Regions from separate parts of the Homo sapiens genome. Here all the other regions are linked to region 1. Evidence: fine-mapped expression QTL. A gene starts in region 1. Each other region holds a variant in brackets. All regions are shown on one strand. Distances are from middle to middle.

Evidence for each region. PIP is the estimated chance that this variant, and not a neighbour inherited with it, causes the effect.
Region 2: its variant is the best candidate, but not a certain one, in a credible set for the expression of KL in blood mononuclear cells (TOPMed, PIP 0.87).
Region 3: its variant is the best candidate, but not a certain one, in a credible set for the expression of KL in sigmoid colon (GTEx, PIP 0.83).

The regions. Positions count from the first base shown.
Region 1 is chr13:33,014,907-33,017,672 of GRCh38, reverse strand. KL (klotho) reads right to left here and starts at 1,250. Exons shown (of 5, transcript NM_004795.4): 1 at 414-1,250. The coding sequence starts at 1,232. It overlaps LOC124903151 (translation initiation factor IF-2-like), which reads left to right and starts at 1,220. Exons shown (of 2, transcript XM_047430819.1): 1 at 1,220-1,837. The coding sequence starts at 1,231. RefSeq lists enhancers at 225-284, 493-1,070, 1,071-1,646 and silencers at 355-454, 1,145-1,214.
Region 2 is chr13:33,067,051-33,069,816 of GRCh38, reverse strand. No RefSeq gene overlaps it. Among named protein-coding and RNA genes, the nearest start is that of KL, 52 kb to the right of the region's middle. The variant T/A (reference allele first, on the strand shown) is at 1,278.
Region 3 is chr13:33,041,489-33,044,254 of GRCh38, reverse strand. All of the region lies in intron 1 of KL (klotho), which reads right to left. Among named protein-coding and RNA genes, the nearest start is that of KL, 26 kb to the right of the region's middle. The variant A/C (reference allele first, on the strand shown) is at 1,218.

The DNA.
Region 1 (2,766 bases):
AGCTCCAGAGAGTAATGCTATCTGTGCGGCTTAAGAACAAACGTGTTTCTTTCATCCACCCTGCTCATTCTCTTCCTGCAGTTACTCCTAGCAAATCCTCCCCGCCCTCACCTCTAGGAATTCCTCTACACCCAGAGAAAGGAGTTTCTTTCCTCACTGCGGAAACCTATCACCGCTTCCTTTCCACAGATGGACTCCAAGGGGCACTCACTCGTGTGCCCACTAAGGGATTTCTCTCCTAATTCCACGCCTTCCAAGGGAAGTCAGAACTGCTCAGTTTCCCCCGGTGACCACATACACGTGTCCAAGTGAAGCCTCGTCTGGGGGAGACTCAGTTCCCACACTTCCCCCTGGCCCCTGTGGAGGCCCTCTGTCTCCCCTGCGTGGCCCTCCGCCTGGCCCCTCGCACTCACCAGGAGGAGGTTGTGCGCCACCAGGTACCCGAGCCGCGGGCTGCCCCGGATGCCGGGGGCCAGGCGCCCGGTGGCGTAGCCGTGCCAGGCCACCACGTAGGGGTTGTCGATGGTGATCCAGTACTTGACCTGACCGCCGAAGTGGCGGAAGCAGAGCTCCGCGTAATCCCTGAAGTGGTCGGCCAGGGCGCGGTTGGCCCAGCCGCCGTAGGCGTCCTGCAGGCGCTGGGGCAGGTCCCAGTGGTACAGGGTGACCACGGGCTGCACGCCCAGCTCCCGCAGCCGCTCCAGCAGGCGCCGGTAGTAGCGCAGCCCCTCGCGGTTGGGGACGCCCGCGCTGCCATTGGGGAGCACTCGCGCCCACGAGATGGAGAAGCGGTAGTGAGTGACCCCGAGCTCGCGCAGCGCCTCCGTGTCGCGGAAGACGTTGTTGTAGCTGTCGCTGGCTACGTCCCCGGTGGCGGGCTGCAGCGGCGACGGGGCGCCCAACGGCAGACTGGCGTTCCGGGAGTCTCCCGGGGGTGCCAGGGGGTGGTGGGTGAACGTATCCCAGATGGACGCACCCTTGCCGTGCTGCTGCCAGCCGCCCTCGGTCTGGTAGGCGGCGCTGCCCACGGCCCAGAGGAAGCCGTCGGGGAAGGTGCCCTGGAAGAGGCCCGCGGCCTCGGGGGCAGGAGGCCGCGAGAAACGGGCCCAGGTCTGCGCGCCGTCGCCCGGCTCCGCACGCAGGCGGCGGCCGCCCAGGCCCAGCAGCACCAGCAGCAGCGACAGCGACGGCGGCGGCGGCCGCGGGCGGCGCGGCGGGGCGCTGGCGGGCATGCTGCGCGGGAGCCAGGCTCCGGGGCCCCGCGCCGCGCCCCTTTATGCCCGCGCCCCGCCGCGCCCGCCCGCCCACCGCCGGCGCGCCCACCCCCGCTCCCCGGCGGGCTCCGCTGGCAATAATTACCTGCGAGCCGGGACTGCCTCCGCCCTGGCACTGGGGGCGGGGGCAGGGGCGCCGAGGGCGAGGGGTGCCCGGGAGGGGCGCGGCAGCGGGCAAGGTGCGGCAGGCGTCGCCCGCGGACGTCGGAGAAAGGCACCTGTTTCTCCCAGCTCCCGGGAGCCGTGCAGGACGTTTCGTGGACGCTCAGGTTCATTCTCTTTGCCTGCCGCGCGTCCTCTGAGAGCAGCCCTGGAGCGGCTTCGTCGGGGAGAAAAGGCGCCGACCAACTTTCCCCGACTTGGGGGCGGGATCCTGCCGGGCCCTAGCGGAGCGCGCCGCTGGGGAAGCACCTGCTCTCACTTTTCTCCCACTCGGAGGCCCAAAGAAGCTCCGGCTGGACATTGCTGGAGCCAATTAGGGACTGGCCGAAATCCTAGAGGGACTGCCAGGTGGGACAGCCGAGGGGGAACTTCGCCGTGCGCTGAAAGGGATTCCCCCTTAGGTGAGATGCTCGCGGGGAGACGCGCCCACCCGCGCCCCTCTTTCGAGGAAGACAAAGTAGATTTATGGGTTGCGTTGGGACTGGGGTTTTGCTCTCCCTTTTACTGTTACCTTTTAATAATTTCAAACCAGCACTCTATCTTTGATTAGATCTCTCAGAATACCCTGGTGAACTTCAAATCACAGTCGTTGATTGTTCTCCTGAAAAACCAAACACCAAGTTTCCAATTTTGAGTAAATCTCATTCACCTTTATTATCCTTTGGCATCTGTGTTACCTTTCGGCTCTGACTTAGCAGGTAATCTGTGCAAAGTTGTGCGCACAGGTCTGCTGGAGCGGGAGGTCCCTGGGTCGCACATTTGCCATCTGAGCTGTGGAGGGAAAGGGGAGGGAGAATTTAGCCGGAACACCCATTCCCATCCTCTACAATACAATGGAGCCATGACGTTTTTCCTGTTGCCAAAGAGCCCTTTTGACAGAAGTTGCAGAGCCACAGTGTCCATTTGGATGTGGGTAGATAGGATTGTGGCTAACCGAAATACAGTTGGTGGAGACTGAGAAGGTCTAGGCTCCACCTTTGTGATTTGGGGCAGGAAACCTCTGTAAGCCTAAGTTTCCTCCTCTATAAAATAAGGATGTCCTGTCTGCCCTGCCGCCTCAGAGGCTTGTGAAGTCCAGTGAAAAACTGCGCAAAGGTGACTCAAAGACAGAAAGCCCAGACAAGTGAAGGATCTTGCTAATATCCCTACCTCCCTACCCAGTAAGTCGTGCCTTAGTTTCCTCACCCGTACACGTGTGTTGAATGACCAAGATCCTCACAGAGGTGCATCCATTCTCCCCCAGTGATCTATCTTCCCTGCATTATTTAATACAAATTTAAAGGCAATAACATTTTAAATGTTGCAGATGAAGGTGCTTTTATTAATTCCC
Region 2 (2,766 bases), 52 kb before region 1:
GGAATCTTGCAGCTCATCCTGTCAACATGATGGTCGTAGTAACCCCACATTGTGTTTGTTTTGGTGGATTGTTAGGCCCATAACAGGCACAGGTAAAATAAGGACATTTAACATGGTACCAATTTGGGATAAAAGTTGGTTCAATCTCATCTCGTCTTTTACTAATAAAATATCTCTATCTGACCCATCCATCTTCCTCTAATTATATCTCTGTTGTGTCCTCTCTGGCTTACCACTACTGCCCCCTGTTGATTGAAATGTTGTATTTTGAAGCCTTGGGGCTACTTACCAGAGACTCGTGGTTCTCATAATTTAAAGGGGAAAAAATATGGTTATAAAACCAATATGCCTTAAATGCAATACTGTGACCTTGGAACACTATTGAATTTGCCATCTAACATGTTGGATATAAATTATCCAAAGCTTTGATTCACATGGAAAACCAACTGAAATGTCTTAGGCAAAATTTATGGTCACAGCCATAATTAGACAACAACTGGTATAATATCGAAAGGAAATTGAATTTTATAAACTGATCAATTGAGATTTTAAACAGAAAAAAAGGTCAGTCTATTCCAGCAGTTTATTAAGGAATAATGTTTCCGTTGAAGATAATGTATACAAAATAAATTAGGTCACTTAACATTAATTCATTTTACCATAAAGTAAACATATTGAAAAATTATACTAAAATCAGAAAGTCTACCAGAGATTTTTGAATCTCATAAAAATTAATGAGCCTTCAATTATTTACCAACCAAATAACAAATATACACATTTTAATGTTTTGTCTGTGTCATTAGATTATTTCAAAAGAGCAGATGGTTCAACATATTGATACAGAAATATCTGCTGCCAAATTATCTTCAGAATTCTATCAATCCAACATTTGTAAAATTTGAATCCAAGAAGGTAATTTGGTATTATTAAGTAAATGTGGGGCTTCGTTTTTCTAAATTTAGTTTTACCAAGGGTATTCTATGAAAATGTATATTCAAAGTCACAAATAAAATAACTAGAAGGCTTCAGGATGAATCATTTTGACTGTAATAGTCCCTAGTTTTACATTATTGAGCTCAAAATATCTGATTAACAAGAAATCACATGCACATTAAGGGTAAGTTGTATGAGTCTAGGAAAAAAATAACGTCTGGGGTAGATACCCAAGGTATTGAATATTTCCTATGTTCAGCACTGTGCTAAGATAGACACTCCCATTTCAAAGATGAGGAAACTGAAGTTCACCAAGGATTGCGTTACCCAAAACTACCCAACTG[T/A]AAGGTCATTTTGAGCCTGGTCTTGTTCTTCTTTCTCTGCCTTTTTATCTCAATAATATGTAGGTTGAAATTGTTTTCTTCTCTAACCCAATGGGTAAAAAAAAAAAAAAAAAAAAAAAAAAAAAAAAAAAAGCAGAGGTCGGGGGACTTGAGTAGTAGTCACCAAGTCTTTTCTGGTATGCAGAAATCATGTAAAACAAGATTTCACCATATTGTAGGTGTCCTGTCACCATTATTAGTGGCATTTCCACCCTTTGCTCAAGGTTCCCTGTGGGTTTTCTGGACCTCTTTCTCCTTGATATCAGACAATGGGTGTTTAACCACAAAGATATGGAAAAAACAAGTTCCAGGAAATGTCCTACAACCAGCAAAACTCCAACAATATTTAGTGGTTATAAAAATGGAAAAATGCAATGGGTCTGAGGGGAAAAGCTACACATTCTAGGAAACTAAGTATTTGGAGATGACATAAAGGGTTCCTCTAAAATACTGTTTTTGTTTACAGATAAAGAACTCAGCCTGAGAGAGAAAGATTACTGACTAGTTGAAAGACATGTGGATAAGGAAGACAAAAAGTTACAACCTTTCACTTAGTGATTTGTCTGGAGGCAACAATTTAGGACAGCAGTAAGTTTTACTGCCTCTCTACCTAGTAAGACAGGTTATCATTCCTTCCTCTGAATATATAGGATGGAGCTGTGTGGCATCTAACACATCGTCATTGCTGGCTGACAGGTGATCTCTATTAAACCAGTCTCTGGGCACAGGTGATGGCAGTGAGCTAATTCTGCTTATCATTTATTCCGTCATGTATTCAATTAATCAACATTTGTTGAACAATATCATGTAAGAGATACTGCGCTAAACACTGTAAAAAATATACCAGACAAGACATGGCCTCTGCCTTCCCCTCTAGAACCGAGGTCCTCCCATCCAGGATGGCCAACATGCTCCAAATTAACATGTTCCTTTCCAAGTGCAAATTTCCAGCAGCATTGCTCAATATTAAATATTAAACAAATATGCTATAGACCAATCTAATTACTTAGTACCAAAATTACTTAGTACCAAAAAAAATGTGAAATATCTCAATAATGTTTATATCAATTACAAGTTGAAAATACAATATTTTGGATATACTGGAAAGAATAAAATATATTATTAAAATTTATCTCTTCTATGCCTTTTTATTTTTTAATATGACTACTAGAAAATTTAAAATGAAATACATGGCTTGCTTGTATCTGTTGAACAGCACTATCATAAATAATTTAATGGAAAACTTCCAAGGCTCTAATAGAGTCTTCTTGTTATTATTTCAGAGACAGGTCTCATTCTGTTGCCCAAGTTGGAGTGCAATGGCATGAACATAGTTCACTGCAGCCTCAACCTCCTGAGTTCAAGTGATCCTCCCACCTCAACCTCCCGAGTAGCTGGGACTACAGGTGCACAGCACCACGCCCGGCTAATTTTTAGAAGTTTTTGTAGA
Region 3 (2,766 bases), 27 kb before region 1:
CCTGATTTCAAGACTTATTATAAAGCTATAATTATTTAATATAGGGTGATATTGGCATAAGGATAGACAAATACATCAAAGGAGCAGAACAGAAAATTCCAAAATAAACCCACAGCCAACTGATTTCTAACGAATGCATCAAAGCAATTATGTGGCAACAGGAAAGACGTTTCAACAAATGATCCTTGACAACTGGAAAAGTGTATGAAAAAATTAAACCCCAATCTTGCATAAAAATTTGAGACAGATCATAGATCCAAAGCTAAAAGCTAAAACTATAAAACTTATAGAACAAAATGTAAGAGAATAGTCTCTTTATCTTGGAGTAGGAAAATACTTCTTAGAACACAGAAAGCACTATATAAATATACATATATTAAAATATCTCCCCTCAGTATGTGATTTGCCTTTACATTTCGCTAACATTTGATGAGCAGGTTTTAATTTTGACGTCGTCCAATTTATCAGTTTTTGTTTATGATTAGTATATAATTGACAAAATAATTATATCCGAAATAAATACGTAAGCCTACCTATCAGTAGTAAAAGAAAAATAACTCCCCTTCCCACCATGAGCAAAATATTTGAATAGATATTTCACAAGAGAATCTTCACCAATGCTCAGTAAACACATAGAAATGTCCTCAACATCAACACTATCAGGAAAATGCAAATTAAAACCCCAACGAGCACTCACACCCACTAAGATGCCTACAACTAAAAATACTGGCAACAGGCTGGGTACAGTGACTCACGCCTATAATCCCAGCAATTTGGGAGGCTGAGGCGGGCGAATCACTTGAAGCCAGGAGTTCGAGACCAACTTGGGCAACATGGTGAAACCCCATCTCTACTAAAAATACAAAAATTAGCTGGGTGTGGTGGCACGCCTCTGTAGTCCCAGCTGCTTGGGATGCTGAGGCATGAAAATCCCTTGAACCTGGGAGGCAGAGGTTGCAGTGAGCCGAGATCACACCATTGTATGCCTGGGCAACACAGTGAGATGCTGCCTCAAAAAAAAAAAAAGACTACCAACAAATTCTGGCAAGGACGTAAAACAACGGAAATTTCATACATTGATGGTGGGAGTATAAATAGTACCACCACTTTGGAAAACTATTTGACAGTTTCTTATAAAATTAAAGATAGATTTTCTCTATAATCTAGCAAGTTCATACCTAGGTATTTACCAAGAGAAATGACAACATAAGCCCCCC[A/C]AAAGACTTGTACAATATTAAGATAAAACTTACAAATTGATATGTTCAAAGATGCTGGCCGGGCACAGTGGCTCAAGACTGTAATCCCAGCACTTTGGGAGGCCGAGGTGGGTGGATCACCTGAGGTCAGGACTTCGAGACCAGCCTGACCAACATGGTGAAACCCCGTCTCTACTGAAAATACGAAACTTAGCCAGGTGTGGTGGCACATGCCTGTAATCCCAGGTACTCGGGAGGCTGAGGCAGGAGAATCGCTTGGACCCACGTGGCAGAAGCTGCAGTGAGCTGAGATCGCTGCCACTGCACTCCAGCCTGGGGAACAAGAGCGAAACCCCATCACAATTAAAAAAAAATGCTTATAGTAGCTTAAATCGCAATAGCAGAAAACTGAAAACAACACAAATGTCCATTCACAGGAGAATGTATAAACAGTGTGGTTTGTTTATACAATGGAATACTATTCATTAATGCAAAGAGTGAACTACTCTTCTAGGCAGTAATATGGATTAATGTCAAAAAGATTGTGTAGATTGAAAGAACTCAGACACAGAGTACATTCACAGAGTTGTTTGATTCCATTTACATAAAGTCCCAAAATCAGTCTGTGGTGATGGGAATCACAACAGCGGTTTCCTACGGAGGTGAGAATTGATTAGAAGTCACAAAGAAACTTTCTGGGGTAATGAGAATATTCTATATCTTTACTTGGATATTTGTTACAGATATCCATACACATACAGGTGTATGTAGTCATCAAAATTCATCAAATTGCTTATAAAACATGTGCATCAATTTTAAAGATCTATAGATTAATAAATATATAATAGATTAATATCTTAGTCATTGGCAAAGCTATTCAGGTATAGAAATATAATTACCTACAATTTATGTGGCAAGAGAATACTGATTTTCTCCGAAACATAAATTCATCTTTGAAACTACTACAGTAATCTGTTAGTTAAAAAAATATATATATTTAGCTTTTAATTGCAGGGATCATATTCATTCAACAAATATTACACTAGGCACTTTTCTAGGGGATTCAAAATATGATCCTGTTCTTATGGAGCTTACATTCTTGGGAAGAAGAGAGATAACAAATGAAAACAAAGCAGAGAAAGGATAGAAGGTAACAGGGATTGGGATGGGAAGGCAGTTTAGACAGGCAAGTCTTCTTCAAGGAAGCATTGTCTGAGGATCTGTAACAGAAAAAGTGAAGAATGCTAAAAAAGACTGGGACCTGAGATGGGGGTGTGTGGAAGGAGCAGAGAACCCGGAGGATTGGGCAGAGGCGGTAGAGGGTACGGGAAGGGCATTCCAGGCAGAGTTGAGCAAGTGATGAGAGCATAGACTCAGCCAGGCTTTCCTAATTCTGCCCCCTTATTAGCTGTGGGACCTTGGGCAAATTATCTGAAGTCTGTGCCTCTATTTCCTCATCTGTAAAGTAGGGATAGTAATAGCACCTCATGGTTATATCCTTGTGAGGATTAACTAAGTCAATACATGGAAAGCACTTAGAATTGTAAATGCTATGGAAGTGTTTCTTATT